Linked DNA regions of Homo sapiens: regions 2, 3, 4, 5 and 6 are each linked to region 1. The links come from fine-mapping of genetic effects on gene expression. A gene starts in region 1. Each other region holds a variant in brackets. All regions are shown on one strand. Distances are from middle to middle. Region 1 holds the start of SH3BP5 (SH3 domain binding protein 5). Region 2 overlaps SH3BP5 (SH3 domain binding protein 5). Region 3 overlaps SH3BP5 (SH3 domain binding protein 5). Region 4 overlaps SH3BP5 (SH3 domain binding protein 5). Region 5 has its middle 29 kb from the start of SH3BP5. Region 6 overlaps SH3BP5 (SH3 domain binding protein 5).

What was found. PIP is the estimated chance that this variant, and not a neighbour inherited with it, causes the effect.
Region 2: its variant is the best candidate, but not a certain one, in a credible set for the expression of SH3BP5 in spinal cord (GTEx, PIP 0.56).
Region 3: its variant is the best candidate, but not a certain one, in a credible set for the expression of SH3BP5 in tibial artery (GTEx, PIP 0.52).
Region 4: its variant is the best candidate, but not a certain one, in a credible set for the expression of SH3BP5 in whole blood (INTERVAL, PIP 0.74).
Region 5: its variant is the best candidate, but not a certain one, in a credible set for the expression of SH3BP5 in B cells (Schmiedel 2018, PIP 0.65).
Region 6: its variant is the best candidate, but not a certain one, in a credible set for the expression of SH3BP5 in whole blood (INTERVAL, PIP 0.56).

What each region holds. Positions count from the first base shown.
Region 1 is chr3:15,330,370-15,335,397 of GRCh38, reverse strand. SH3BP5 (SH3 domain binding protein 5) reads left to right here and starts at 2,812. Exons shown (of 9, transcript NM_004844.5): 1 at 2,812-3,127; 2 at 4,832-4,894. The coding sequence starts at 2,990. RefSeq lists silencers at 2,704-3,103, 3,184-3,243.
Region 2 is chr3:15,278,608-15,283,635 of GRCh38, reverse strand. The region is part of intron 3 of SH3BP5 (SH3 domain binding protein 5); the gene reads left to right. Among named protein-coding and RNA genes, the nearest start is that of SH3BP5-AS1, 27 kb to the right of the region's middle. The variant T/C (reference allele first, on the strand shown) is at 2,220.
Region 3 is chr3:15,289,822-15,294,849 of GRCh38, reverse strand. The region is part of intron 3 of SH3BP5 (SH3 domain binding protein 5); the gene reads left to right. Among named protein-coding and RNA genes, the nearest start is that of SH3BP5-AS1, 38 kb to the right of the region's middle. The variant T/C (reference allele first, on the strand shown) is at 2,806.
Region 4 is chr3:15,284,400-15,289,427 of GRCh38, reverse strand. All of the region lies in intron 3 of SH3BP5 (SH3 domain binding protein 5), which reads left to right. Among named protein-coding and RNA genes, the nearest start is that of SH3BP5-AS1, 33 kb to the right of the region's middle. RefSeq lists a silencer at 916-1,091. The variant G/A (reference allele first, on the strand shown) is at 2,198.
Region 5 is chr3:15,359,546-15,364,573 of GRCh38, reverse strand. No RefSeq gene overlaps it. Among named protein-coding and RNA genes, the nearest start is that of SH3BP5, 29 kb to the right of the region's middle. RefSeq lists a silencer at 1,995-2,054. The variant C/T (reference allele first, on the strand shown) is at 2,719.
Region 6 is chr3:15,301,491-15,306,462 of GRCh38, reverse strand. It overlaps SH3BP5 (SH3 domain binding protein 5), which reads left to right. Exons shown (of 9, transcript NM_004844.5): 3 at 2,232-2,360. Among named protein-coding and RNA genes, the nearest start is that of SH3BP5, 29 kb to the left of the region's middle. The variant C/T (reference allele first, on the strand shown) is at 2,913.

The sequences.
Region 1 (5,028 bases):
TTTCTTTTTTCTTTTTTTTTGAGAGAAAGTCCTACTCTGTCGTTCAGGCTGGAATGCAGTGGTATCATCTCGGTTCACTGCAACCTCTGCCTCCTGGGTTCAAGCGATTCTTCTGCCTCAGCCTCTCGAGTAGCTGGGATTACAGGCATGTGCCACCATGCCCAGCTAATTTTTGTATTTTTACCATGTTGTCCTGGCTGGTCTCAAACTCCTGACCTCAGGTGATCCACCTGCCTCGGCCTCCCAAAGTGCTAGGATTACAGATGTGAGCCACCATGCCTGGCCTAGAGACCAGGTCTTGCTTTGTTGTCCAGGCTGGTCTCAAACGCCTGGCCTCAAGCGATCGTCTCTCCTGCCTCGGCCTCCCAAAGGACTGAGATTACAGGCATGAGCCACCACATCTGGCCCCTCCTGTATACTTTATTATTTATATATATATATTTATTTTGAGACAGGGTCTTGCTGTCACCTAAGCTGGGGGGCAGTGGTGCAATCTCAGCTCACTGCAACCTCTACCTCCTGGGCTTAAGCAATCTTCCCATCTCAGCCTCCCAAATAGCTGTGACTACAGGCATGAGCCACCACACTTGGCGAATTTTTTGTATTTTTTGTAGAGATGGTGTTTCACCATGTTGTCCAGGCTGGTCTTGAACTCCTGAGCTCAAGCAACCCACCCACCTTGGCTTTCCAAAGTATTGAGATTACAGGCATGAACCACCATGAGCAGCCCCTCCTGTATACTTTAAGTCAGCTCTAGATTTCTTACCTGCAATACCTAATACAATGCAAATATGTACATAGTTGTCATATACTGTATTTTTTTTTTTTCTAGAGAGCAAGGCAGTCTCGCTTTGTTGCCCAGGCTGGTCTGGAACTCCCGGCCTCCAGTGATCCTCCTTGCCTCAGCCTCCCAAAATGCTAGGATTACAGGTGTTAGCCACCACTCCTGGCCATGTATTTTTAAATATGCATTTTTTTAATTGTTGTGTTTTTTTCCCCCAAATATTTTCTATCTGTGGTTAGTTGAATTTACACATGTGGAACCTGAGAGGCTATGGAGGGTTGACTGTATATAGTACTGCCTGTGGTTTATTTATTTTTCTCATTTTATCTTTAGAAAGACTATTAGGATTAACACTATAGCTGGCCCAGATCTCCAAAAAATAAGACAACAAAAGTCTGAACTGATGTTCTTGAGCAGTTGGCCTATGTCTCATAGATGTATTTTGCTCTTGACCTAAGCTTAAGCAGGAATGTAGTTTGGAGTTTGCCATTTAGAATGGAGAGGATAGGGTTCTGCTAGCTGAGAAGCATTTATCATAGTCAGGGCTGACCCCAGAGTTCTGTTTATTTCAAACTCTGTCTCTCAGTTCATTCAGAGCTAGGATGTACCTGCAAAGTTGGAGGCTCAATTCCAAGCCACCAGAGAAGGTTGGTGGCTCCTGTGTTCCAAAGTGACCCCTATGGCTATCTTGTTCCTGGCTTCATCTATCATTGGAAAACCAAAAGCAACTATGTCTTTAGCAAGGAGCTTTGAAGCACCTCTCACAGAATTGCTGACTCATCCTTGATTTAAAGAGCAATGAACAGGTCTGACCTTTTTAGAAACAAACCATGGCACTACCTCCAGGAGACAGGACAAATTTCCTTTGACAGTGGACTACAGTGCCAGCGTGTATGGGGTGGTGCCTTGCCCAAGGAGTAACCCTCTAGCCTAGTTTCTGATAAAACCACCAGGAGCAGGACTATTTATTCATTTGAGAAGGGGTCTGGCTGTATTGTCCAGGCTGGTGTTGAACTCCTGGCCTCAAGTGATCCTTGTGTCCTGGCATCTCAAAGAGCTGGGATTACAGATACGAGCCACCACGTTGTGCCAGACCCAGGTTTTGTAAGGTGGCTTTGATGATAGGTTCTCAGAAAGAAGCTCCTTTCTCAAGCAAATTTGTCCTCCAAACTCAGAGCCGATGGGCTACAGGCCTCCGTGTAGGACATGTGCACGTTCTGCATTTCTCAAGGCAAGGAGACGTGAGCAGCCATGTGCTCATCTGCTTTGCCAAGGTCATCCTTTGCGTTCCCCTGACATCACAGTGGCCCTGACATTTCATAAAAGCACACACACGTGCCTCTTCAGTTTGGCCTTTTCGGATGCTGTGTCTGCCAGGCCAACTCTGTCTCCCTACTTGTTGATGGTGGGCAGAAAGTCTCACTAATTCATAAATTCTTGGCCAGAGTGTGCCCATCAACAGGGGTTACACTTGCCACCTCCTTAAATCCCAGCTCAATGCATTCTCCATGCTCCTGGCTATTCAGGTAGGACCGCCGCACCTCTGTGTTTCGGTATGGGGCTCGCCCAGAGAGGCCGCAGCCTTCGGCAATGCATCAGTGCACGGAACCTCCGCCATTCCCAAGGTTCGCTCAAGAGGATGAGTGTGCTTTGGGTATAGGGTTTCGGCAAGTCTTGGTCCTGAGGGCCAGGGTCACTGAGCGTAGGCTTCAGAAGGCGACTTCAGTGTGAAAACACCCACGCCTCCCTACCACACAAACAACGAGCCTCGGAGGAGGGCTGGAGGAGGGGACTCCCGAAAGCGGGAGGCTTGCGTTACGTAGTTGAGATATATCCGAGCTGCTAAGTTACAAGGGGGTGGGGGCTGTCCTATTTTGCCACCTTGGAGATGTGGAGGGAGCTGGGGTTTTGCGACGGAGACCTGGATAGCTGGGACTGGCGGCGGAACGCGAGGCCGGGGCGGGACGGGGGCGGAGCGGGCGCTGCGCTGACTGCCGCGGCAGAAAGGGGGCGGCCGCGCCCATTTCCTCTGCTCCGCCGCGGCCGGAGGTATCCGCATCGGCGAGCTGCGTCTCCCGGGTGTCGGCCCCGGCGGCTCCCCGACCGTGCCCGGCTGTGGCGAGGCGGCTCCAGCCCAGCCTGTGGCAGCCGCGACCCCCGGGGCGCTCCGGAGCCCACTGCGCGGCGCGCGTGCCGGCTGCCTGCATGGACGCGGCACTGAAGCGGAGCCGCTCGGAGGAGCCAGCCGAAATCCTGCCGCCTGCCCGGGACGAGGAGGAGGAGGAGGAAGAGGGGATGGAGCAGGGGCTGGAGGAGGAAGAAGAGGTGGATCCCCGGATCCAGGTAGGGCGCGCGGGGTCGCCCCGCATCCGGGCTTCGCGAGGGCTGCTACGGAGGTCGGTGTCTACGCGTACAGCCACTTCGCAGCCCCCAGTAACTGTGGTCCGGGGACTGGCGGCCACATAGGGTGGCAGGAGACGGTCTGTATGCTCCGTTTCATCGTCTCCACAATGAGGAGGCTACAGTGCCCGCGTGGATGCGGCCTGACTCTATTGCGGGGAGTCCCCCGCCGACCCGTAGCAGGATCGGGGTCGGTGCAGCGTGCCTGGTGGTTCGGGTGGATGTGCAACAAAGGGAAAAAGGGGGCGGGGGCGCCATGGTATCCTCGGGGGTACCCCTGCCCGGCCGCGGCACCGCGGGCATGGCACGGCGTCCAGGCTCTGCGAGGAGGTGTCGCCCGCGTGGGCGCCGGGCACCGTGGGCGGGTGGGCGTTGCCCTGCAGCGCGGGCTGGCACCGGTGCCCCGGGTGCAGAGTCCTCACTTGCCAAGGTGCCCGGCCTGAGCCGTTTTCCTTCTCTGATTGATTGTTAGCGAACTGAGCGGCTTATTGTCATCACTGGCTCAACGTTCTGCCTGGCTTGAAATTGCTTAAAACCCTGCTTTTCCTTGTTGTGAGGTTGGGCATGAAAAGAAATCGGGGACAACTGATGCGCAAAGCTGACGCGTGGAGGCGGCGAGGGGATTGGGCTGGCTGGCTGTGCCTCCATTTCCAAGAGAGATGATTAAAAAACAATTTCCAAGCCGAGATCTAGGAGTGACAGTTTCACCTCTTCACCCCTAAGCAAAAAGCAGAGCAAATCCCTTTCTAAGGCCCGTTTTTTTTCTACCTTTTCAATAAATCATTTTTTTAAAAAAATTGCTTTTAAGCATGCTCTGTAATTTCTGGATACCTAATTGGTTTTTTAGTGCACAGATCAATTTAAAAGCTCACTTAACTCAGTGGTTGGGGTTTAAATGAATTGTTTTGTCAGCTTAGCAAGATAAAGATCAGGTGGAAAAAAAATCCTTGCATTAGGAATGCTATTAATTAAAGTAATTGGTTTGGAATAAATCGTGTGTTACTGGTATGGGATTATGTTAGCAAGATCCTTTGTTTGCATAGTAATGATGAGTTAAGTTCATGTTGGATACTTTTTTTACAAAATGTCAGTTTGTAAATGTTTATTGAAAGGAATGGGATTAAAGCTAGTTTAAAACGTCCAGCTAAGTAGGTTGAATAATTGGCAGTGTGAAAAGATTTTCACCCTTTACAGAAAAATAATTCTGGTGAGTTAATACCAGAATTCTGCCCTTGATGATTTCACTGGGTTTATATTTTTGGCTTGGCCTTGCTTATTGTCTTTTATTGTTTTCTAAGCAAAGTTCTTGCTCAAGGCAGATGGTACTGTTTTGATTAGGCCATTAAACCATTTGTAACAGGTGGGGTTTACCTGAAGGCATGTACCTGGAATAGTTGACCTCTGACAAATTCCAAATGTCTCTGAAGACATTGTCAAAAGGGACACCCTCAAGAAAATGGTTTCAGAAATGCCGACATTCATTTGCTTTTCTAGTCAAGCCTCAACTGTTTGCCGTAAGAATTAATTCTGATTCTTCCCTTTTCCTGCAAATTGGGCTGGGGTAATTTTTCAGGTTATGGACTGAGTTATATTGGAAACAAAAGACGGATCCCTTAAGTCTTTTTTTCTCCCTCTTTTCTTCACCAGGGAGAACTGGAGAAGTTAAATCAGTCCACGGATGATATCAACAGACGGGAGACTGAACTTGAGGTACAGAGAGCTGAGTTCCTGTTCTTGGTGAAGTGATGTCACTCACACCGGCACAAGGCTGGTTAATTTTGTCTTCATAGCTGGAGTGTTATTGCTGGACCCCCCTCCTTGGGAGTTGAGCAACAGCTCCCTGA
Region 2 (5,028 bases), 52 kb after region 1:
AGACTGAAGTTAGAGATGAGAACTTTTGGACAACTGGAGTGGTGTGGCCACTAACAGGCTATTGGGGCCATTGCTGGGCCCCTTCATTTCCCGTACATCTTAAAAGATTGCATGTGGGTAATATGGGCTTTAAGGGACCATGAGCAGCTCAGCCTTGTAAACCTGTCTCTTGTTTGGGTAACATTTTGACTGTTTACCTCCCCTCATTGGCAATCTTAGATATTTCTTTTCCTTTTTTTGAGACAGGGTCTCGCTCTGTTGCTCAGGCTGGAGTGCAGTGGTGCAATCTCGGCTTACTGCAGCCTCCCTTTCCTGGGTTCAAGGATTGTCGTGCCTCAGTCACCTGAGTAGCTCGGACTACAGGCGCCTGCCACCACACTCAGCTAATTTTTGTACTTTTAGTAGAGACGGGGTTTTGCCATGTTGGCCGGGCTGGTCTTGAACTTCTGGCCTCATGTGATCCACCCGCCTTGGCCTCCCAAAGTGCTGAGATTACAGGCGTGAGCCACCGCACCTGGTCTTGTTTTACTTTTGTTTGCTCATTTATTTGAAATGTTGCCTTTAATGAGGACAACCATTGACAAATATTTTTGGTTTTCCCTATTCTTTTAGTAAGCGTTTTCTTGAGTTTTGTGATTATGTGGAAGGTAAAGAACAAAAGTGATAACTGATGAACCAACGCCTTCAAAAAATATTTCTTTACAACTTTTTATTATGGAATTTCTGCAAAAGTAGAATAATCAGTGGACCACATGTGCCCATCACCAGCGTCAACAATTGTTAACCTCTTGCCAATCAGGTTTCGTCCACCCTCCCCCTCTAGCTTTTTCCTTGATTATTTTAAAGCTGTTCATAGATTTATCACTGCACACCTAAGTATTTAGATATGTATCTCTAACAGGTAAGAACCTTTAAAAGGTCACATTTTTACACCTAACAAAATTAGTTTTTAAATATCATCTAGTATCCAGGCCTTTTTCAAATTTCCCCAGCTGTTTAAAAAAAGTTTTATTGTGATTGGTTTAAAACATTTGACTAGAAACCGTGGTTATTTTTTGTCTTGATAAATAGTATGGATCTCCCTTTTCCCCTCAAATTATGCTATTGCTTAAGCCAGTGACATAATTTCGAGTTTAAAGAAAGAACTGTGTGGTAGGTAAATAGCAAAGCAACAGCTGATTAAGAAATGTATTGAGAAGCAATTTTGTAAACTTTTTTATTATGGAAAATTTGCAAACTTGCACAGCAATAAATAAGATAGCAAAAGCAACATAGCTTGTGGTTAACTAGTCTGCTGCTCACAATTTGCGTATGTTGTTTAAGCCAGATACTGCATTACAGAACTTTCCTCATGGGTCCCTGCTGTAATTATGTATAATTATGTATTTTCAGTACTGTAACTGAGGCTTCCTTGGAGTTAGCAGAGGCCTTGGCATTCCAATCTGAAAAGTTTAGTGACTTGTTCAAGGTTGTAGACCCAAGACAATGGTTATTGTTGGTGCTAGGGATATACTCTGTTCTTCCTGGTTCTCTTGACACAGAATACGGCCTCATAGTGGCTCAATTGTCCTGGTCAAATCAATGCCAGTTTTGTGCAAGGCATCAAAATGTGCTTTTTTTGGGGGAGGGGACCGTGTTTCGCTCTTGTCACCTCATGCTGGAGTGCAGTGGCGCAATCTCGGCTCATCACTGCAACCTCCGCCTCCCAGGTTCAAGCAATTCTCCTGCCTCAGCCTCCTGAGTAGCTGGGATTATAGGCATGCACCACCGCGCCCGGCTAATTTTTTGCATTTTTAGTAGAAAAAGGGTTTCACCATGTTGGCCAGGCTGATCTCGACCTCCTGATCTCATGTAATCCACCTGCCTCAGCCTCCCAAGGTGCTGGGATTACAGGCGTGAGCCACTGCACCTGGCCCAAAATGTTTCTTTTGTTGCCATTATGGTGTGTTAAGATTGGAGAGCTACAGGGGGCTTGTTTGTCCACATGGTGCAGGTGGAACCATGCACTTGGGGAGCAGTTACTGGAGGAGTGGGTGTTATGCTCGCAACCCCCAGGCAGAGAAGTGTGTACCTGTAGAGAGGCAGGACTGGGGGAGGGAGCAACTGGCCACCTGGTTCTTCTGCTGGAGAGGAAGGAGAGAGGTAGGAGTCGGGAGATCAGAGCTCTGCCAAGGGAATCTGATGCCTTCAGGTCCTTGTTCAAGGTTGTAGACCCAAGA[T/C]AATGGTTATTGTTGGTGCCAGGGATATACTCTGCTCTTCCTGGTTCTCTTGACACAGACCATGGCCTCATAGTGGCCCAGTTGTCACTGGTCCAATTGTCCTGGTCAAATCAATGCCAGTTTTGTGCACGGCATCAAAATGTGTTCTTGTTGGGGGACCGTGTTTCACTCTTGACCAGCCTGGCCAACATGGTGAAACCCTGTTTCTACTAAAAATACAAAAATTAGCTATAGCTATAGCTTAGGGGAGGGAGATGCTCTTTCCTCTTCTGGCATCCCAGTTCTTTATACATCCACCTCTCCACTCCTATGCTCCACCCTTGTGACTGGAAACCGGCAGCTACTCATTAACTGCAAAGGAATGTCATGAGGCATAATTACAGAACACATGGACTTTCCCGGCGTGCAATATTCCAGTTCTCTGCCACCGTGCGGCATAAAGCAGGGCTCTCCACTCCCTCACAATGTCAGGCAATGACCAGGTTCGTGGCCTGGGTCTGCATCGTGCATCCCAGTGGAGGATGAAATAGCTTCCCTGATTGGTGTGTGTGTGTCTTAAGAGATGCTGGTGTTTTGTGGGTCCTGGGAATGACAGTGTAGGTGGGGGACAAAGGCAGAGATGGAAGAGAATTGTGAGTGGACGTGCAGGGAGGAAGATACAGCCCTGCTGAGCTCAGGGAAACCCACCGCAGTGGAGGAGCTCTGTGAGTTTGCACACATTTGAAGAATTAAGAGGTGGGGCATGTTGCGTGTGTGTTTTGGGGACAGAGAGAGTGCGAGAGTGTGATGTCGGGGATGGCTGTGTGGCTGGCTGGCAGGGAAGGCAGCTTGGATTGGGGCTGATAGAATACCCAGGCTTGATGCTTTGAGCAGGCCAATTTATTTGTTAGGCTCTGAAGTTTTCTCCTAGAAAATAAAACAATTGGTCTACATTGTCTCCGTCTCCCTGAGCGCAAAGACCCTGTTATTTGGTTCTGTGGGTGAGGAGTCTAGGTTTGGTGGTGGTACCCTGGGGTGCTGTTGTGGGGTTTTTTTCCTTTTGGGTACTGCTGTCTACCCCCAGCTCAGGCCCCTGCCTTGCACCTGGCCAGTCGATTCTCTAGCCGGTGGCACACTGCTAGAGCATGAAGGTGAGAGCGGGAGGAGGATGAGGAGGAATGTGGGCGCACCCTTCTGGCTAGGGTGGGCAGGAAGAGCCTGGCATCTATGGGGTTGCTGCAGCAACAGGAAGGATTTGATTTGGGATGCGTCGTTCCCGGAGGCCTGCTGTGTGTAGCTGGCAGGCCCTGTAAGCTGCTTGTAATTGTGAAAGGATGGAAGTGTGGGGACAGGTCATAGACATCAGTCGGCTAACTAGCCGAGGCACACTGACTCAGGCTAAGTAGTGCCCTGTGAAAACATAAGGCCCAAGACCATCCTCCTGCCAGCTTTTACATGAATTAGGGAGATTCTGTAGGGTGACAAATAGTGCCAGCTTAAGGCAGAGGAACCGGTGCTTCCTGAGTGCAATGGGAAGCCCTCTGGGTGCTGTGTCTGAACATGCGGTGTCCAGAGGTGAACTGCAGGCTGGTGTCTAGTACTGAAGATAAGCAGAGGTGGGCTCAGTGCTTGATGAACCTTCCCTGATGCCCCCAACCGAAACCCTTGAGTCAGACTCACCCCTGGTTAGTCTGGATGACTGTTGGCAGTAGGGATTGTCTTGCCAGAAACTGGGGTCAAAACTTTCAAATATATGCAAAATAGACAACAGTGTAATGGAACCTTGGATGTTTGTCATCCAGCTTCTATTACCAACCTTGGGGCAATCCTGTTTCATCTTTACCCCCACCCCCAGCTCTCCCTTCTTACTCCTAGCTGTATTTTGAAGCAAGTAGTAGCTTTTACATTTTTATTTTTTAAAAGTTCCCCTTTAAGCTCAGGCTGGAACAAAACCGTTTGACCTTGATATTTCTAACCCTGCAAAGCTCTCTTGCTGCTCCGACATATTAAAGGGCTCTGTAGTCTGTCTATGGTACAGCTGCAGGTGCTGTCTCTCTTAAGACTGCCCGTGGTTTTCTCATTTCTCTAAGGGTAGATACATACCATAGATTTCTTGTTTACTTTGTAATATACATTGTTGGGAGAAATAACACTATTAAACTGATAATGGCTCAGACTGTACATGGTAACCTTTGGGACCGAGAAAAAATGATGTCCCCTATGTTTGACAAATTTTTAGATCTTTTTTTTTGTTTGTTTCTTTTCCCGAGACAGAGTTTCGCTCTTGTTGCCTAGGCTGGAATGCAGTGGTGCGATCTCGGCTCACTGCAACCTCCACCTCCCAGGTTCCAATGATTCTACTGCCTCAGCCCCCTGAGTAGCTGGGATTATAGGTGCCTGCCACCAGGCCCAGCTAATTTTTGTATTTTTATTAGAGATGGGGTTTCGCCATGTTGGCCAAGCTGGTCTTGAACTCCTGACCTCAGGTGATCTGCCCGCCTCAGCCTCCCAAAGTGCTAGGATTACAGGCATGAGTTACCACGCCTCACCAAATTTTTAGATCTTTAAGAAACTGATTCAGGAAAATTTTGATAGAAATAATGAAAAACTCCGTGCCACAAGCTACATTTAGTAAAATTTGATATGGATGAAACTGTTCATTCAATCAAATCTATTTGAAATAGAAAGGAATCAATCCTCAGGAGAATAATTTTGACTAAATAAAAATGAAAAATTAGAAGCACCTCGGTGTGAAAAATAATCAAGGAACTAAATGGGCTTAATGGAATTCTCTCCAGAAGATGTTTTCAAAGGAAACTTTGTTCTGAGA
Region 3 (5,028 bases), 41 kb after region 1:
CCTTACGCCTCAGCCTACCCTTCAGACTTGGTTGAGAAGCTGCAAAGTAGCCATGGTAGGCTCTTGAGTTAGGGGGCTTAGGTTGTGTTTGAGAAATTGATGTCCTTACATTAATGGCAGCTCCATTTTTTGCCATTTTTTGAGCGCTAATGATGTATTAGGTGCCACACACACTGCTCTGTGCGGGGGCTGTCATTGTTTCCCTTTTGGCCTTATAGTACGAATGAGGAAACTAGTCTTGGAGCCCAAAGACTGGGCCTTTACATAAACCTTTCCGGTGTTGTGGCCTAATCTAAGAGAATGTGAAGGGAGACTGTAACAGACTTGGTTAATTATCTATCCAGAATGCAGGGAAAATGGGAGTCAGTGGTATGGCGGTGACAGTTTACTGGATGGAAGGGAGGAAGAAAGGAGGATGGAAGGGAGGAGGAAGAAGAGTAATTTCAACACTCTTTGTATACCAGGCACTTTCTAAGTGTTTTACATGCATGAGGGGGAGTTACGTAAACATGCGCGCGCACACACACACACACACACACACACACACACACACACACACTTACTTTTGCAGAAGAAGAAACTGGGGCTTAGAGTCTGTGTTCTCTTAAGGGGCTATCTGCAGCCCTGATTTGTTGAGGCTGTGCTAGGGGCCTGGGTTTGTGGTCATAGGTCTTTTATGTACATTATCTCATTTAATCCTTACAGCGAGTACTTTTTGCAAAGTGGTACTCTTTTCTTTTTCTTGTTTCTTTTCTTTTTTTTTTTTTTTTTTGAGATGGAGACTTGCTCTATCGCCCAGGCTGGAGTGCAGTGGCGTAATCTCGGCTCACTGCAACCTCTGCCTCCCAGGTTGAAGCGATTCTTCTGTCTCAGCCTCCCGAGTAGCTGAGACTACAGGTGCACACCACCACACCAGGCTAATTTTTGTATTTTTAGTAGAGACAGGATTTCGTCATGTTGGCCAGGCTGGTCTCTAACTCCTGACCTCAGATGATCCGCCTGCCTCGGCCTCCCAAAGTGCTGGGATTACAGGTGTGAGCCACTGCGTCCGGCCTGCAAGACGATATTATTTTCATCATACTGAGGGGGAATAATCACTGAGGCTTGGGGACTTTAACATCACAGACCTTGCGAGGACAGGAGTGAAGGTTTAAACCAAGTCTACCTGGTTCTGGCTGGTGCCTGGCACATAGGAGGCATTTATGACTATTTGCAAATCTGAAAGACACTCTGGCACATCTGAGGAGAATGGGCTTTTAGGACTAAAGGCAGTTTTTGAGCTCATTGGTGCAGTTATTTCCCTGCACACCCCTGCCTCTTCTTGGCTAGGGTAACTGAGAAGCTCTTGTTCCGAGAAGCTCTTGTTCCAAGAATCTGGAGTCCTTGGGAACTTTCCCCTCATGGTGCCCTGTTCCTGCTAGGACTTCAGTGTGGCTTTGTCATGCCTTCCTTCTTCCCCGTCACTTTATCTCTGCAGAGCCACTTGCCTGCCTGGGGGCAGTTCTTGCCACGGGACTTTGGGTGAGGAGGTCTGGCTCAGTGACGTTCTTCCCTGTGGCCCTGGTCACATTCCCCCTGGGTGGCCACAGGCCAGTTCCTGGGAACTGCGTCATTCCTGCTGCCCAAAGTAAGGGCACGTAGTGGAATGACAGGGCATCTGTCTCAAAGCAGAGTTCCTGGAGATTTATGGCAAGAACTGAGCATGGACTCTTAACTCTCCTTCGCCTGAAAGATCACATCCTGCCTGACAGTCTTGGCTGAAGATTCTGGGAAAGAAGCAGCTGCACTTTGGAAACTTGGAATCTTGAATTAGGATGGGGTCAGGAAGGAGATGTGTTGCAGCTTTTGACCCAGGTCAAAGGCTCCTGACACACACAAGTAGATTTTTGGGCTTCTGCCAGAAGGGTTGCACCTCCTGCTTGGCTGGCTCTGCCTCGGGCGTCTGGGGCTGGAGCAGGGAGAGTGTTGCTGATCTTGAGGTTTTCTTTTCTTTTTTCTTTTTAGATGGAATTTCGCTTTTGTTGCCCAGGCTGGGGTGCAATGGTGTGATCTCGGCTCACCACAACCTCCGCCTCCCGGATTCAAGCAATTCTCCTGCTTCAGCCTCCCGAGTAGCTGCGATTACAGGCATGCGCCACCACGCCCAGCTAATTTTGTATTTTTAGTAGAGATGGGGTTTCTCCATGTTGGTCAGGCTGGTCTCAAACTCTTGACCTCAGGTGATCCACCCACCTTGGCCTCCCAAAGTGCTGGGATTACAGGCATGAGCCACCGCGCCTGGCTTAGGTTTTCTTTTCTGGTGATGCCATGAACCATTTGCATTCAACCCCATTCTGTCTGGCAGGTGGCAGGAAGTCCGCGTGGGGGACTGGTTGCAGGCAGGTCTTAGCCAGGAAGCACTGGGCTGGAGGAGCTGCCCTCCATCACCTTGTTAGTTGGGAGGTTTGTCATGGGCAACTCCCTTTTTCTTATCTCCTTTGCTATTCACAGAGGCATGGCTGAGCCCCCCTTGGTGCTGCTGGGCAGGCAGTGTTCTCTGTGAAGCTAACAGGTGTGGTTTGTCACCACAGCATAGTGGTTAGAGGGGAAACAGGGTGTGGAGTTTGGTTCCCTGAAACCATGATGCTCTTCAGATGTTTCCTTCCTTCTTCTCAACTGTACTCTGCTTTCAGTAAAGTGATTGCATGGACATGGATAGCCCCTTCCCCTCTGTAAACCACAGGCATTCCCTGGCAAGAGTGGCAGAGTGATTAATTTTTCAGTGAAAGGAAATCAGAGCATAGGTTGTGTTTCTGCTACGAGTTT[T/C]GTCGACACAGGCTGGCCTTTTTATGTTGCCTGGTGACGAGGTTTGGGCCCCGGCTGTGCACTCTTGGTGCACCTTCTGTTCCTTTCCTGACTCAGAGGATGCCCCTGCTTTCCTTCCTTTCTTTTCTACTTCTTCCCCAGCCCTTCCAGTTGTGACTTCTATGAAAATCTACCCTGAAGAATCTGATGAAATTATTCATGCTGAGAAGTAAATGACTGATAAGACTTAGAGATTTATGGTCTCTGGGGCTTCAAGTGGTTCTGACTTACAAACATTCCCATAGCTTGGAATACCCTGCTTCCAACCTGGTGGGACTGCATATTCCCAACTCAGGGTTCATCATGCTGTGGGAACCTCTGCACATGTGAGAGACAGAACTACACCCTTTACACTAAGTGGGAAATGCTTAGAAGTGCAGGCTGTAGGTAGACTTTTCATTTCTACCCAGTGGGATGTCCTTGTGGAGTTTAAGCCAGAAGTAAGATTGGCGGATAGAACATGGGAATACAGAACACCCAGTTAAATTTCAGATTTTTTTTTTTAGGTATAAATTTGTTCTATGCCATATTTGGTACATAAGCTAAAAAAATTGTTTACCTGAAATTCAGATTTAACTGGAAGGCCTATATTTTTATTTGCTAAATCTGGCAGCCCTACCAAAAGGGAATTTGTAGTGTTGATCAGCCAGAGAGAGAAAGTAGTTTTGGGGTCAGCTGCCCTGTCTTGGGGTTCCTGAATCCACAGCATGTGGAGCTGTGGAGGAACCCTGGCTCCCACTTTGTCATTCCTTAGCCTGTAGCCTTGAGTGGGCACAAGTGAACACAGACAGGAGAGTTGAGTGATACTAAAAAGCATGCGAATGCTCATGCTGCTGTTCTAGCTACTCCCAAGCCTGGTGTTTCTGGGACGAAATTGAGTTTCTAAGATAAGGAGCTGGGTCTAGTATTTTTTTCTGTCCACCCCAACCCTCACTAGCTTGGTTTTGCTGAGAGCTGGTCAGCTCCCGGTAGAATTCCGAAGGGCTTCATGGGAGGCCACATCAACTGGGTCTCTTCTGAAGAATCTTCTGGAATGTGGGTTCCTCAGCTGTGTCTTCCCCTGTCTTCTCCAGCCACTTCCTGTTTCTGCCTCCCACCAGTTCTTTCCCCTTCTCCATTCTCGATGGCCTTTATTAGTTTGATATTTATTAGTTTCTTCCATTTAAAACTTTCATGGGCATGGGGGGAGTTTACCTTCTCATGGAGGATGGAGCACCTGTTTGCTTCAGTTAAGGCAATGATGGGCTCTGGTTAGGAAGCCTCACTTTGTAGGTTTCATTTTGGGTAAGTGGTTTATTTTTATTTTTGAGACGGAGTCTTGCTCTGTCACCCAGGCTGGAGCGCAGTGGCACGATCTCAGTTCACTGCAAGCTCCACCTCCTAGGTTCAAGTGATTCTCCTGCCTCAGCCTCCCAAGTAGCTGGGATTATGAGTGTGTGCCACCATACCCGGCTAATTTTTTTTTTTTTTTTTTTTTTTTGGGACAGAGTCTCACTCTGTTGCCCAGGCTGTAGTGCAGTGGCGCAATCTCGGCTCACTGCAACCTCCATCTCCCAGGTTTAAGCAATTCTCCTGCCTCAGCCTCCCAAGTAGCTGGGATTACAGACGTGAGCCACCATGCCCAGCTAATTTTTTGTATTTTTAGTAGAGATGGGATTTCACTGTTAGCCAGGGTGGTCTCCATCTCCTGACCTCGTGATCTGCCCGCCTTGGCCTCTCAAAGTGCTGGGATTACAGACGTGAGCCACCGCGCCCAGCCTAATTTTTGTATTTTTAGAAGAGACGGGGTTTTGTCATGTTGGCCAGGCTGGTCTCAAACTCCTGACCTCAACTGCCTTGACCTCCCAAAGTGCTGGGATTACAGGTGTGAGCCACCGTGCCCGGCCTGAGGAAGTGGTTTAAATGGAAGTAAAAAAAGATGCCCTGTGCTCATCAATTCACTGTCAGCCCCAAGTGTATGCCCCAGCCCTTTGTCAAAGCACCACACCCCAGAGAAAGTGCTTGGTGTTATTTCTAAAAGCAGTGGCATATCAAAATCTTCTGAGGTTTTTGCATTCTTTAAGTCTCTTGATCTCAGGGTAAGGCCAGCTTAGTGAAGGTTCTCCTTATGTAGAGAAGGGGGGGTGTCTGTTTTCACACTGACCTGGGCACTCATCCAAGGTGGTAGAAGGTATCTACAGTGGG
Region 4 (5,028 bases), 46 kb after region 1:
TGAAGATGGCTCCAGGAACTCCAGCCATCACATCTGCATTTCAGGACAGAAGGAGGAAATGAGGAAGGGATATATGTCCCTTCTATTTTAAAGAGTCTACTTGGGAGTCCCAGACAACACATTTTCCATTCATTGCTAGAACTTGGTCAGGTAGTCACAGGTAGCTGCAAGGGAGGCTTGACTTGGAGTCTTTTAGCTAGCCAGGCAAGGTTGTTTTAAGGATGAAGCGGGGAATGGATATTGGGAGCAGCTAACAGACTGCCACGTTGGTACTATAGTTTATCTTCTAGAAAGGCTGTGAGTTAGAAGGAGTTAAAGGTGGGCTTAAGTTACCCACAGAGCAGGCATAAGACTCTTTTGAGCATGGAAATATAGTAACTGCCTGTATCTCTGTATCTACCTGTATCTCCGTATCTATGGTAACTACCTGTATCTCTCTGCTACATCACTTCCCTCCCTTTATGTTGTATGGAAAACCTCCTTTCCCATTCTACATTGTGTTGGAGATTTGTGAGGAAATGCTAGCTTCTCATAAAGTGAGTGTTTTGTAAAGTCACAGAATCCATTCATTCATACTTTAACAAATACTAAATGAGTCATTTCTCATTGTCACTTTTTTGGTGCAATCCCTCATGTCTTACCCAGAGCATTGAAATAGCCTTTTTTTGTTTGTTTGTTTTGTTTTTGAGACAGGGTCTCTCATTCTGTCACCCAGGCTGGAGTGCAGTGGTGCAATCCCGGCTCACTGCAACCTCTGCCTCCCAGACTCAAACAGTCCTCCCACCTCACCTTACAGGTGCATACCACCATGTCTGGCTAATTTTGTATTTTTAGTAGAGACGGGTTTTCACCATGTTCCACAGGCTGGTCTTGAACTCCGGAGCTGAAGCGATCCACTCACTTCAGCCTCCCAAAGTGTTGGGATTACAGGCGTTAGCCACCGCCCCCGGCCTGAAATAGCCTTTCAACCGGTCTTCCTGCCTCCTGAAACCTCCATCCCTCCCTACTGCCTCCCGGCTGAATTATCTTACCAAAGTGAGTTCTACTGATAGTCTTGCTCAAAAACTTTAGTACATGTGATGGTTAATTTTATGTGTCAGCTTGACTGGGCTGCAGTGTCCAGATATGTGGTCAAATATAATTCTGGTTGTTACTGCGAGGGTGTTTTTGGATGACATTAACGTTTAAATCAGTGGACTTAGAGTAAAGCCGATTGCCCTCCCCAGTGTGGGTGGTCCTCATCCAATCAGTTAAAGGTCTGAATAGAGCAAAAGAGGGACCTCCCATGAGCAAGAGGGAATTCTGCAGCAGACGGCCTTTGGTCTTGAACTGCAATGTAAGTTCTTTCCTGGGTCTCCAGCCTACTTGGAGATTTTGAGCTCTGCAGATTTTGAACTTGCCAGCCTCCATAATTGCACGAGCCAGTTCCTTATAATAAATGCTTATATAAACATCCTATCAGTTCTGTTTCTTTGGAGAACCCTGGCTAGTACAGAACATTTCTTCTGTCTCCAGTGTCAAGCCCAAATCTGACCACAGCGCACAAAGCTTTTCACGGCCTGGCCTGGCCCCTCTTGTCTTTCGGCATCTGGACTTCTCTGTGCTGTGGTTCAGTGTACACGCACGTCACTACTCACAATTGCAGGGTACGTCGTGGTGTTCTACTCATGATTTCTGATTACATCAGGGAATGTTTTGCATCATTGCGTAATCCAGTCTTTGCCTGTGACTTCTTTCTTCCCAGACTGACTAGCTCTGTGATGTTCAAAATAGTAGCCATTAGCCACACATAGCTGCTTAAATGTAAATTAATTAAAATTAAACCAAAAATTCATTGATTCACCCTGGCTGGCCATATTTCAAGTGCTCAGTAGCCACACGTGGAGGCTGGCTACTATTTTGGGACGGTGCAGATAGAGAACATTTCCATTATTGCAGAAAGTTCTGTTGGACAGCACTGCTTAGCTTTTACCCTTTGCTGGATTAAAATGAAGGCACAAGTCAATGTAACTTTCATGAACCCTTCCTTTAGCCCCGCTCCCTCGGCTTTTTGTCAGCTCTGCTTCTTTGAGAACTTGAGCGTTATGGTTGTCATCCTCTGAAAACAGACATGTGCATGGGTGCATAAATTATAACTTCATGGTATATGTTGCGTCCCTTTAAATATCATGCATGTCATGTGGGTTAATACCCACAA[G/A]CTAATGCTACATAATGCTTGCTTATATGACAGCTGACACTCTGTACTGCTTACTGCGTGCCTTTTCTCTGCACTTTATATGTATTAACTCACTTATTCCTTGCAGCAACTCTATGAGCTACGTTCTGTTATTATCTGTGTTTTGCAGGTGAGGTAACTGAGGCACAGAGAAGTAAGAAAGTACTCAGGGTCACACAGCTAATGAGTCTAGAAGCCTGAGTCTTGATCTGTGTTCCCAACCTCTAAACCATGGGTCAAGAAGCCTGCCCTGGAACCGTGAGCTCCTTGAGAGCAGAAATTGCATCTTATCCTTTCCGCATCTTCATGTTGCGTGGTGCAAAGTAAAGATGAAAAATGAGTACTTGCTTTAAAGAGGAATGCTTGCAGCCCGGCATGGTGGCTCATGCCTGTGATCTCAGCACTTTGGGAAGCTGAGGCGGGTGGATCGCTTGAGCCTAGGAGTTCAAGACCAGCCTGGGCAACGTGGCAAAACCCCATCTATACAAAAAATTAACTGGGCATGTTGGTGTGCTCCTGTAGTCCCAGCTACCTAGGAGGCTAAGGTGGTGGGATCTCTGGAGCCCAGGAGGTTGAGGCTGCACTGAGCCGTGATTGTGCCACTGCCACTGCACTGTAGCCTGGGCGACAGAGTGAGACCTTGTCTCAAAAACAAAAGAAATAAAAAAGGAGTGTTTGGAATTGACAGAATTACAAAGGCTTAAGGTGTAGTCATTTCAACCCTGAGACATTTGGATTTCTCTGTGTGGATATCTTATCCTTTTTCATTCTCAGTTCCATTGGCTGAAGTTTGTTCCCAGCCATTTAGAGCTGGGAGAAGGCCCCTGAGTTCCTCAGACCTGCTTTGCTTGGCAATACCAGGTGGAAATGAGATCTGCCAGGAACCCGGGCTCACATGGAGAGCCCCTGCCACACCAGTTTGTGCCGATTCTGCCTCCCCAGGCAGGGGCGGAGCTGCTACCCTGGCCCTGTCACTAGGCCATTCCCATCCTTCCACAGGCCCACAGGTGGCCTGAAGTGGTATGGCCTCCGGCAGCCAGAGGGGCCACTAGCTGTGTATGCCCTTGTGCTCTGATGCTGTTTCTGATAGCCTGCTCTGGCCAGGGCCCGCCGGCTGCAGCCATGCCGAGCGTCTTCCCACTTACATGATAATAGATCCCTCAGATTTTTCATATGCTGTGCTTACCAGAAAGGTATGTTTTGCTAATTCATGTTTATATTAGGCCCTCATTTTCATCTGTGTCCCTCTGACCTTGAATTCCTTTGCAGATCTTCTTGCAGGTGATAGTTAAAATTAAGCCAAGTTATGCTGATCCAGAAGCAAAGTTAGATTGGAGGTAGGGGTTTGACGTTTCAGTGAACCAGTTGCTCCTTTGGCTGTGTTTAAGTGTACCAGGCAACAAACAGTGCTGAGTGACCCAGGGAAGTCTGAAACGTGGAGGAGGTGGGAAGAGAAGAGCCAATGTTCCTGGCTACTGGAGGGCTTGGCGGAGCACCTGTTTCTAAGTGCAGCTTCTCTACCATGTTAGTGGTGAGGACTCACGGTGCCTTCAAAGAGTTTGCAGTCTTGTTGAGAAGACCAAGTGAATGGTGAAATAATTCGTGAGATGTATTCCTGATATGTTCATGGCGTTGGGCAGTTTTCAAAGTATTTTTTCACATATACTATTTTATAACGTGGCAAACTGACAAAAGAAGTACAGAAACTTGGTCCTATGAAGTCAGAGAGGGTAAATTCTTTTCCCAGGCTTAATTTCCTGAAGCCCCATTGGGATCTGGGTTATGTATCGCCCAGCTTGGAAGGGGTGAGGTTGAGCGGAGCGGGGAATGAGTTAGATCTTGAGAGAATGGCGTTCATATGACATGACTTTCTGTATACAGTTTGATTATTCAGGTGAGCTTTTACATCACCCTAAGTGGCCATTTTCAAGGATAAACCTGTCCAGATAGACATTTATCTAATTGCAGGAGTCACAGGAGAAAAAAATCGCAAATGCATGAATAACGATTGATCATAAGGGAGTTGTTTGTGGATTATCATTTCTACCATAGCTAGGTACCTTAATTATACAAATATTTCTTAAACATTTGCAGTGTACCAGCCACTGTGCTAGAATATGGGAATTAAATTCAGTAACACAGTTTTGGCTCTCATAAGACTTTCCAGGACACAAGGGGCAATACTGCTGTGACGAGATCCTAGAAATCCTATGTACTATGCATAAAGGAGAGGGCTGTGGGTTGCCAGACTTTTTTGCTGTAGCATCTTAACTCCAAAGGTCCTGGGTCTGGGGCACTCACCAGGCATTCGGTCGTCCAGTGTGTGCTGGTGTCCCTGGGTTTGAGTTGTCCTTCTCTCCTCTCCCTTCACATACCTTTTATGGGTCTCTCCCAGGCTCATAGGCCAAGAGTAGAAAGCTCTGGGCTTCTGAGTTGCAGAGTGAGTTGGTGTTAACTGAAGTCACTTTGTCTAGAGTGGGTGTGTCCTCTGCCTCTGTTAAATGGCATCCCCTGGGACTGAGGCCAAGCTGTTGTGTGAGGTACTGGCTGGCAAAAGACCAATCCTGGCCAATATGGAGAAGCTCTCCAATTGAGAGGCTCCTTTTGTTGATCCCAGCTGGCAGGGAAGGGGCCATTGACAGATAACTCCCCTCCATCATTTATTTTGAGTATTTTCATCTGAGGCACGAGGAATGTTAACGACTTTGAACCCATTTATTTCAAGTGTGTTGGAAAGCAGTCGCCAAATAGAGACTAGTAGCACCCAGGATTAGCTTATGAAAGTTTGACATTGGCGCTTCCAGCCAAGTGGG
Region 5 (5,028 bases), 29 kb before region 1:
ATTGAGAAAAGACAGTTTGAGAGAGATGAGTGGGACCAGGGGACCATCGCGATTGTGGAGGCTGCAAAGGCCCCATGCTCTGGGAGCCCACACTATTTATTGGTAATCCAACAAAGAAACAGGTGGTGAGAATGTGGAGGTCAAAAGGGTGCGTTGCATTAAGCACATGATTTACAGCTGTGATGGTTTAGCATTTGCTCTGCTACTTGAGATAATGGAGAGCAGGTTCTTTTAACTCAAGATACAATCGATCCTGGGAGAGCAACGAGCAAGGAGCCAGCAAGTCTAGACACATTCCAGAGCCACGAGCCCTGGAGTCTATCCAAGCCATGAGGGATTTTATGCCCTGGGCTTAGATTATGTTGTGCCAGGGCAGCCTTCCACCCTTTAGCACAGAGCTTGGTGTTCCAAAGGCCACAAGGAGTTTTAGACCATGGACCCTGGACACGTTCCAAGACTCTTTTACATTATGTCAGACGTGCAAGCCCTGCCTCAGCTTCTCCCAACACTCAGCTTTTCCCAACAGCAAGACTCCATCTCAAAAGAAAAAAAAAGAAACAGAAAGTTAATGAAGGTGGAGGTTGCCTCTGATGTCTATCTTGAAAGCATCCAGCCATTTGGTCAACTCAGCCTATTCCTGTCAGTGTCTAATGACAGAGAATTGACACTTTTATGGAGCCCATTCTCACGTGTAATCACTCCCATAGAATGGATGCATATACAGTTGGATATTTGGATAACAGCTCTGAATTGCACAGATCTACTTAACCGTGGAGTTTTTACCACCCATTGTGGATGGAAAATACAGCGTTCATGAGATGCAAACCCCTGTAAATGGAGGCCTGTTTGTATACGCAGGTTCTGCAGATCTGACTGCAGAGCTTGAGTATGCCCAGATTTAGGTATTTTGGTGTACTCAGGGGTCCTGGAACCAGTTCCCTGTGTATACCAAAGGAGCACTGTATTGCTGTGTCACAGTTTGGGGGAACATTTTGATAAGTGCATTTCAGTATAATTGGTTTCCTTTGTAATCCTATGTGTTTTCTTTTATGCACTTAAAAATACTATTCTGGCTGGGCATGGTGGTTCATGCCTGTAATCCCAACACTTTAAGGGGCCAAAGCAGGAGGACTGCCTGAGTCCGGGAGTTTGAGACTAGCCTGGGCAACACAGTAAGACCTTGTCTCTACTAAAAATAATAATAATGAAAAAATTAGCTGGTTGTGGTGGTGCGTGCCTGTGATCCCAGCTACTCAGGAGTCTGCGGTGGGAGGACTGTTTGAGCTCGGGAGGTCGAGGCTGCACTGAGCTGTGTTTGTACCACTGCACTCCAGCCTGGGTGACAGAGCCAAGAAGTTGTCTCAAAAAAAAAAAAAAAAAAGTACTATTCTGGGAAAGAATCCACTCATTATAGAATTCTTCACCCAACCACCAAGGAGGTTCATTGCTCAAAGCCTTCAAGCATTTGAAGATGTTACATAGACCATCTTCTTTCCTTTCTCTACACATGGTAACCCCCAAATCAAGCAGGCAGCTCTCAGATACCCTCACATGCTCAGGGCTGTGTCCTTGAATCTGGAACCAGGCTGCCTGGGCTGGAATCCCAATTCCAGCATTCTAGCCCTTGGATTAGAAAGGGCTAGAAAGCACTGGGATGTTCTTAAACACCACCTTTCTAGCCCTATGCCCTTGGTCAAATTAGTTTAAATGCTCGGTTTCTCCTCTGTAAAATGAGGACAGTAACAGCACTCATCTCACGTGGTTGTTGTGAGAATGAAATCAGTTACCGCATGTAAACCTTCAGCAGTGCCCTGCTCTCTGCCATGGCGTGTTTATGGAATGTTAATAGCATGAGGCGGGAGGCGGACAACCTCAGGCGAACCTGCTAGAGGGCACCCCCTTGTGTATGACTCTGATCACTGTGGTTTCTTTTCTCTGGGTCTGAGTCAGACACAGAGATTTCTGTTAAAAAGTAGCAATAGGAGGCTGGGCACAGCGGCTCACACCTGTAATCCCAGCACTTTGGGAGGCCAAGGCGGGCGGATCACCTGAGGTCAGGAGTTCAAGACCAACCTGGCCAACATGGAGAAACCCTGTCTCTACTAAAAATACAAAAATTAGTCAGGTGTGATGTCAGGCGTGTGGAATCTCAGCTACTCGGGAGGCTGAGGCAGGAGAATTGCTTGAACCTGGGAGGCGGAGGTTACAGTGAGCTAAGATCACGCCACCGCATTCCAGCCTAGGTGACAGAGTGAGATGCTGTTTCAAAAAAAAAAAGTCAAAGGATCCCTTTAAAGTCTATTCCTATCTAAAATTTTGTAGATGTCTTAGTTCGGTTAGCCCAAAAGTGGACCCTGAGGCAAAGGATTTTGGGCAAATCATCTATTTAAGAAATGATTCTAGGAGGCAGAGTAAGGAAGTGAGACAGGGAAGAGAGAAAAGCCACATAGGGCACATTGCCGAGCAGGATACCTCAGAGGACAACTGGGCCGCAGTCCTGTGAAGGCCCCTCTGAGAGACTGTGCAGCGGTGAGGAGGCTGGCGGGTGGACTCACCAGCTCCTAGCCCTCATCTGTTGAGGCTGTCCTGGGGTGTTACCTCCCAGCAATTCTGGCCAGTCCTGTGTGTGGGCTCAGAGGAGCCCTCAGGCATTGAAACACAGGCACGTGAGGGAAGAAGCCAGCAGGGACAGCAATTGTCTTCCAAAGCTGCATCTGA[C/T]AGTGCACTGACACAGTTCGCTTCAGTGGGGGATGGCTGAGCTAAACACGGCTGTCAATAATAAGCAAAAGAGACATGAAACGTTAGTTTTGACTTAATTTGATTAAAAACGTAACTGAAAGAGGTTTGACCCCAGCCTGGGTCTTTCAACTTCTCCTTCCTCCCCATACCTACTAATCACAGTCTGACTTTCACCGGGTGATTCCTTTAGCAATTTATATGTGGTTTCATCTTTAAGGATGTGCTTATGAGAAGCTCCAGCCACCCACGCTTCAAAGTTCACATATGATTAATGGGTAAACTTTTCAGTGGTTTGAGGAAGGTAGTCAGAAGATACTCATTATTTTAGTATCTGCTCATTAGCAAGGAAAATTGGCTTCCTAAAGTGTTTCTGTCTTTTTTTTTTTCCTGTTATTTAAACAAATAGCATGACTTGTAATGCAAAATCTTAGGACCGTGGGATGTTAGATTCATCTGGTTAGAGTTCAGTATAAAGTAGAGCTGTAAGAGCTTGCATTTTGTTAAATAAATGAATGACTGTCTTGTTAAATTCCATAAAAAGCAGTTACCTCTGTTCAGTTTTCCAGGTGAGAGTGTGCATGCTGGTCAGCAAGTTTATGATCATTACTTTTAAAAACATTTTATGGTAAAGAAAATGAAATACAGAATGCCACATTTGTATCTACACTATGAGTACATAATGTATAAATTATGTAAGTTTATAGACAAGAACAGGAAGGTAAAATGAGGAAATGAGTACTTTTGCCAACACAGTCAATTTTCTTTTAAAAACAAGGAGGAAAGAGAGATGAGCAGTATCCTTAAAATCAATCCCAGTGTGACATGGAACTTTCAGGGTGTTTTTTATTAACCTTGGCAACTTTTCTAGGCTCAGATCAAGTTACTGAGGAATTTCCCCAGATTTTCTACCACTCATTTTTGTTTTCTCTAAAAGTAGGCTGAAAAATTGAGACTGCCAAGAAAAGCACAGTGCATAAGAATGAACCTCAAAAACAATATGCTAAAGTGAAAGAAGCCACAAAAGACCACATATTGTATGATCTAATTTATATGAAATTTCTAGAAAAGACAAAACTATAGATATAGAAAGCAGATCAGGAGTTACCTAGTGGTGGCTGAGAGCAGGGATAGAATACAAATGGCACAAGGAAAGTTTTTAGGGCAATGAAATTGTCTTAAACAGAAATGTGGTGATGGTTGCATGACAATAAATTTAGTAAAACTCACCAAACTGGATTTTATGATATATACATTATACAATAAATCTGTTTAAAAGAGAGACTGAGGCTGCGTGTGGTGGCTGACACCTGTAATCCCAGCACTTTGGGAGGCTGAGGCAGGCGGATCACTTGAGATTAGGAGTTTGAGACCAGCCTGGCCAACATGGTGAAACCCTATCTCTACTAAAATACAAAAATTAGCTGGGCATGGTGTTGTGTACCTGTAACCCCAGCTACTCAGGAGGCTGAGGCACGAGAATTGCTTGAACCAAGGAGGCGGAGGTTGCAGTGAGCTGAGATCACACCATTGCACTCCAGCCTGGTGACAGAGTGAGACTCCATCTAAAAAAAAAAAAAAAAAAGGGCCGAGCACGGTGACTCATGCCTGTAATCCCAGCACTTTGGGATTACAAAAAAAAAAATGGCCTCCTGATGTTTCTTCCAACAAATTGTCTTCCTGAGTACTTACTATATAGACAAATAGCAGCAGCACTGTCCAACAGAAATACAATGGGAGCCACAGATACACTTTTTTCTTTCCAGAGATGAGGTCTTGCTCTATTGCCCAGGCTGGAGTGCAGTGGTGTGATCATAGCTTACCATAACCTCAAACTCCTGGGCTTAAGGGGTCTTCCCACTTTAGCCTCCTAAGTAACTGGGACTCAGGTGCATGCCATCATGCCCCTAAATTTTTTATTTATTTTTATTTTGTAGAGACAGGGTCTTGCTGTGTTGCCCAGGCTGAAGTGCAGCTTGCACCATCATGGCTCATTGCAGTGTTGACCTCCCAGGATCAAGTGATCCTTCTGGCTCAGCCTCCCGAAGTGCTCATATTACAGGTGGCCACTGTGCCCAGCCAAAACAAATTTTTTTTAATTAAAAAAATTGTAGACCAGGTGTGTGGCTCACGCCTGTAATCTCAGCACTTTGGGAGGCTGAGGCAGGTGGATCACTTGAGGTCAGGAGTTTGAGACCAGCCTGGCCATTGTGGTGAAACCCCATCTCTACTAAAAATACAGATATTAGGCAGGTGTGGTGGCATGCGCCTGTAATCCCAGCACTTTGGGAG
Region 6 (4,972 bases), 29 kb after region 1:
GATCTTGGCTCACTGCGGCCTCAACCTTCTGGGCTTAAGCGATCTTTCCGCCCTGGCCATAGGCACACGGCACCATGCCCAGCTAGTTTTTTGTTTGTTTGTTTGAGACGGAGTCTCGCTCTGTCTCCCAGGCTGGAGTGCAGTGGCGCGATCTTAGCTCACTGCAAGCTCCGCCTCCCGGGTTCACGCCATTCTCCTGCCTCAGCCTCCCAAGTAGCTGGGACTACAGGTGCCCACCACCATACCTGGCTAATTTTTTTTTGTATTTTTAGTAGAGATGGGGTTTCACCTTGTTAGCCAGGATGGTCTCGATCTCCTGACCTCATGATCCACCCGTCTCGGCCTCCCAAAGTGCTGGGATTACAGGCATGAGCCATGGTGCCCGGCTGCCATTTCTCTTTTTTTTTTAAACTCATGCATGTGTCCTTCCTTCCCCTAGGTGTGGCTTTGTCAGGCAGATGCCTGAGGGAGAGGTAGAGGGGATGTGGGGTTTGAATCACTGACCTGATCCCTTCCAATAGGTCCTCCTAGACCTGGGACTAACTTATTTAATTTTTTTTTTCTCTCCTTATACCTCTTGGATCTGGTTTCTTGACTTTTACAACATGATTAAGCCTTGCACAGTCCTTCTTTGCCTTCCTAACTCCTATCAAGGTCCAAGTTGCTAGTTGCTGTCGCCAGGATGGATGGCCACCCTTATCTCTTGCCATTCTCCACATTCCAGACCTCCGGCCTCCTTCAGTTTCTTGCAGACACCATGCTGTTCCCATTCCCCTCTTATCTGGACACAGGCTCTGCTGCCTGCTTGGGACTCAGTATTTTCCTCCCCTCCCCCAATTTCCTATTCATGCTTTGGACTTCTGTTTAGATAGTACTCCTCTGGAAGTTTCCTGTGACTCTCCCTCTAATACATGGTCTGGCGCCATTCTTCCCTGCTGAGTTCCATGGCGACTGGACCATTCCCACCCTGGCACTGACTTTTCTGGAACGGGCTGTAATACCTACCTCACCCACCAGGCTGTAAGTGCCCTGGAGACAGGGCCACGCCCAAGGCCCAGCACCAGGTCTGGCATGTGGTAAATAAATAAATAAATTTGCACTCAGTGTTTAACATTGACAGCATCATTTGGACTGAAGCTGTCAGAGATGGCTGGACATTCTTCCCCAGATAGAGGTTTGGTCAGTGTTGAATCTATGTCTCTGATTAAAGTCCTGAGCTTTGACAACATGCTGTCCAGAGGTCCTGGACAAAGCTTTTTAATCTATACCGTGCTATGCAATATAGTAGTTGCTAGCCATGTTAATTAAAAAATTTTAAATATAATGAATTAATTTTTTTTTTTTTTGAGACAGTGTCTCACTCTGTCACCCAGGCTGCAGTGCAGTGGCACGATCTCGGCTCACTGCAACCTCTGCCTCCTGATTCAAATGATTGTCCTGCCTCAGCCTCCTGAGTAGCTGGGATTACAGGTGTCCCCCACTATGCCCGGCTAATTTTTGTATTTTTAGTAGAGACGGGCTTAATTTCCAAAGGGTCCATCCTACCGATATCTCCCCCACAGTGCACAGCATGTTGTGCACATACACAGTAGGTGCTCAGAAACTTTGCGTTGTTGTTGCTTACTAAGCTTTTTTTTTTTTTTTTTTTGAGACAGAGTCGTGCTCTGTCACCCAGGCTGGAGTGCAGTGGCATGATCTTGGCTCACCACAAGCTCTGTCTCCTGGGTTCAAGAGATTCTTGTGCCCCAGCCTCCTGAGTGGCTGGGACAGCAGGTACCTGCTACCACGCCTGGCTAATTTTTGTATTTTTAGTAGAGATGGGGTTTTGCCATGTTGGCCAGGCTGGTCTCCAACTCCTGACCTCAAGTGATGGGCCTGCCTCGGCCTCCCAAAGTGCTGGGATTACAGGCGTGAGCTACCACACCCGAGATGATTAAAATTAAATAAACTAAAAACTCCTTTCCTCAGTCACACCGGCCAGTTTTAAGTGCTCAGTAGCCACACGTGGCTGGTGGCCGCCACACTGCACTGTGCAGAGCACAGGACGTTTCCGCCGTGGCAGGAAGCTGTTTTGGGCGGTGCTGCTCTAGACACTGTCTTGTAAAGGTGCTACTTTAGGGGTCTGTACGTTGGGTAAAGTCCTTTGTTGATGTTTCTGTCTAGGTCCAGTAGGTGTTTGCAGATCCCTTCTTAAGCCTCAACTGTGTTTCCTCGGTTTCCCCTGGCTGCAGGATGCTCGTCAGAAGTTCCGCTCTGTTCTGGTTGAAGCAACGGTGAAACTGGATGAACTGGTGAAGAAAATTGGCAAAGCTGTGGAAGACTCCAAGCCCTACTGGGAGGCACGGAGGGTGGCGAGGCAGGTAAGATAGCCCCATAGATGTCTCCCCTACCTCGAGCCTCACTACCCCTCAGTTTTAAGGGTGCCTTTGACTGTATCACCTGCTGAAGGTTAGAAGCTCGAGTCCAATATGTCTTAAATGCAGTGACCCACCGCCCCGCAATCTGCTTCATTCCAGTGCTCGACACTATTAATAGGGTGTGAGTGCTGGCATTTGGATGACCCTGCAAGTGGGTGCTCTCCCTGAGTTGGTGCTGAGTGCACTTAAGGGGACGTGTCCAGAGGGTGTTCCTCCTCCGCTCCTAATGACAACCTGTCAGACAGCAGTAGGAAGATTCGCTTACTGCCTCGCGTTCGCCTCACTCTTGGGAGTGTTTAGCCTTCTGCTTCTCTTGAAACATCGGTTCTTCTTCTTTTTCTTTTTTTTTTTTTCCTTTTTAAGATTTGGCAGGTGAGTTGTTATACACTCCTTAGCGGATTCTGACTTCCGTGGCCATCGTCCTGCTGAAACTTTGGTTCTTTGTCCTGAGAGCCCAAATAAGAAGCAGTGAAACGGAGACCAGAAGGGGAGTGG[C/T]GGAGGGGACTGTGATCAGGCGATTGCTGGGGGCTGCGTGGAAATGGGTTCTGGTTTAGGAGTTGGTCTTCCTTTGGCTGCTGTGTGACGCGATGTGCCACTTGTGTCACCTGCAGCCTCTGATAGCCAGGCCCTGTGAATGGGGAAGGTAAAGAGCCCTCAACAGTTACTAGTACCTGCTGTGTGGCAGGCTCTGGGCTGGGGGCTTTATTCACCTTCCTCAGCCTGCTTCGGCTTCCCGATTAGAGAGCTAATGTGAATCACCAACCCTGTGATGCCTCTTGAGATGAGAGTTCAGATTTCCCAAGAAGATCTAAGCAGTTGGTCCAAATTGTAGTTCACTAGCAAATGACCCAGTGCTGTCCCTGTGGTGTGTTTATGACATGATGGAAGATGCTGCCTTCAAAAGTGTCCACTTGTAAGAAGATGTTTAGTGAGGCTGGGCATGGTGGCTCACACCTGTAATCCCAGCACTCTGGGAGGCCGATCACTTGGTGGGCAGATCACTTGAGGTCAGGAGTTCGAGACCAGCCTGGCCAACATGTTGAAACCCCTCTCTTCTAAACATACAAAAATTAGCCGGGTATGGTGGTGGGCGCCTGTAATCCCAGTCACTAGGGAGGCAGAGGCATGAGAATCGCTTGAACCTGGGAGGTGGAGGTTGCAGTGAGCCGAGATCGTGCCACTGCACTCCAGCCTGGGCGACAGAGCACAAATGTGTCTCAGAAAAAAAAAAAAGAAAGAAAAAATGAGAGAGCAACAACAATGCAAAGTTTCTGAGCACCTACTGTGTATGTGCACAGTGTGTTGTGCACTGTGGGGGAGATATCAGTAGGATGGACCCTTTGGAAATTAAGTCCCAGAAATCTAGGAATATATTAAGATAGACCCATAGAGAATGAGGGCCAGGACTTAACCATTCCTCTTCTTTTTCCTATTTCCATGCACCTCTCATTTCTCTTCAAGGGAGCCCCTTGCTGCTTTGGGAGTTCTACCAAGATCGTACCTGTGTGTTTGGGTTTTATGCTCTGAACCCTGAGCTGAAGTTCCTGGTTGGACCTTGCCAGATATGTTGCCTTTATTCCTAGACAGAGTGGCTGCCTGAAACCCTTCTTTCTTCCCTGGCCTGGTGCATTGGGCTGTATACTTCAAAGTTCTGATTGCTCGTTGGTCTGCACAAGCCCTGAGCAGCAGCCACTCCCTTTTTCCATCTCCAGCTGGGCCCTGCCCAGGCCTCTAGAATTCCCGGGAGAAGAAACCCTTCTCCAAAAAGCACTTTCCAATTCCCACAGATTCCAGCACCCTGAGGCATTCCCCCTCCAAAGTGTCCACGTTGGATTAATCTTTGAGATGCCCCCCAAGTTGAGGATGTGTCCTACCCACTGTAGGCCAAGGTTGTATCATTCTTGACCTGAAACGGAAGTATGGAGGGTTCAGGTTAGGTTTGAGGAGAAGCTTCTGAGGATTTAATTTAAACATTGGATAAATATCGAGGAATTCAGAAAACCTCCTTTCCTGAAAGTCTTTAACACTGGGATTTATGGTTCTGTGATGCCATTTAGCCCACGCGTATCTATTAAAAGCAGCCCACGTGCCCATGCTGCAGAGTGATTGAAGGATGGTCTGTTGAAGCATCCCACTGGAGTCGCGGCAGTGGCTTCTCTACCTGAAGTTTTCCTTGTCTGGTCCCTGAGCTCAGGTTTGGGGGCAGAGATGGCTCTAGGGGGCTTTGTGTTGGGGTTTCTCAAGGCTGGTCCTCTGATTCAGGTCACTCCCTTGGCTGTGCTGATGTGAAACGTGCTCCTGCCTCAGGTCTTTGGACTTGCCTTTCCCTCTGTTTGGTGGTGTCCCTCTGTTTGGCGATGTCCTGGTATTTTCATAGCCCGATTTCCTCATCTTCAGGTTTCTGCTCAAATGTCTATCCCTTTATCCATGAGGCCTTCTCAGGCTAACATTTAAAATGGTTAACTCCCAGCCCACCATCCCTGCCAGCCCCAGCCCCCATGCCTTGCTTTCCTTTTTCCCTGTGGGGCTTCTCCCCATATGACCTGTTATAATTT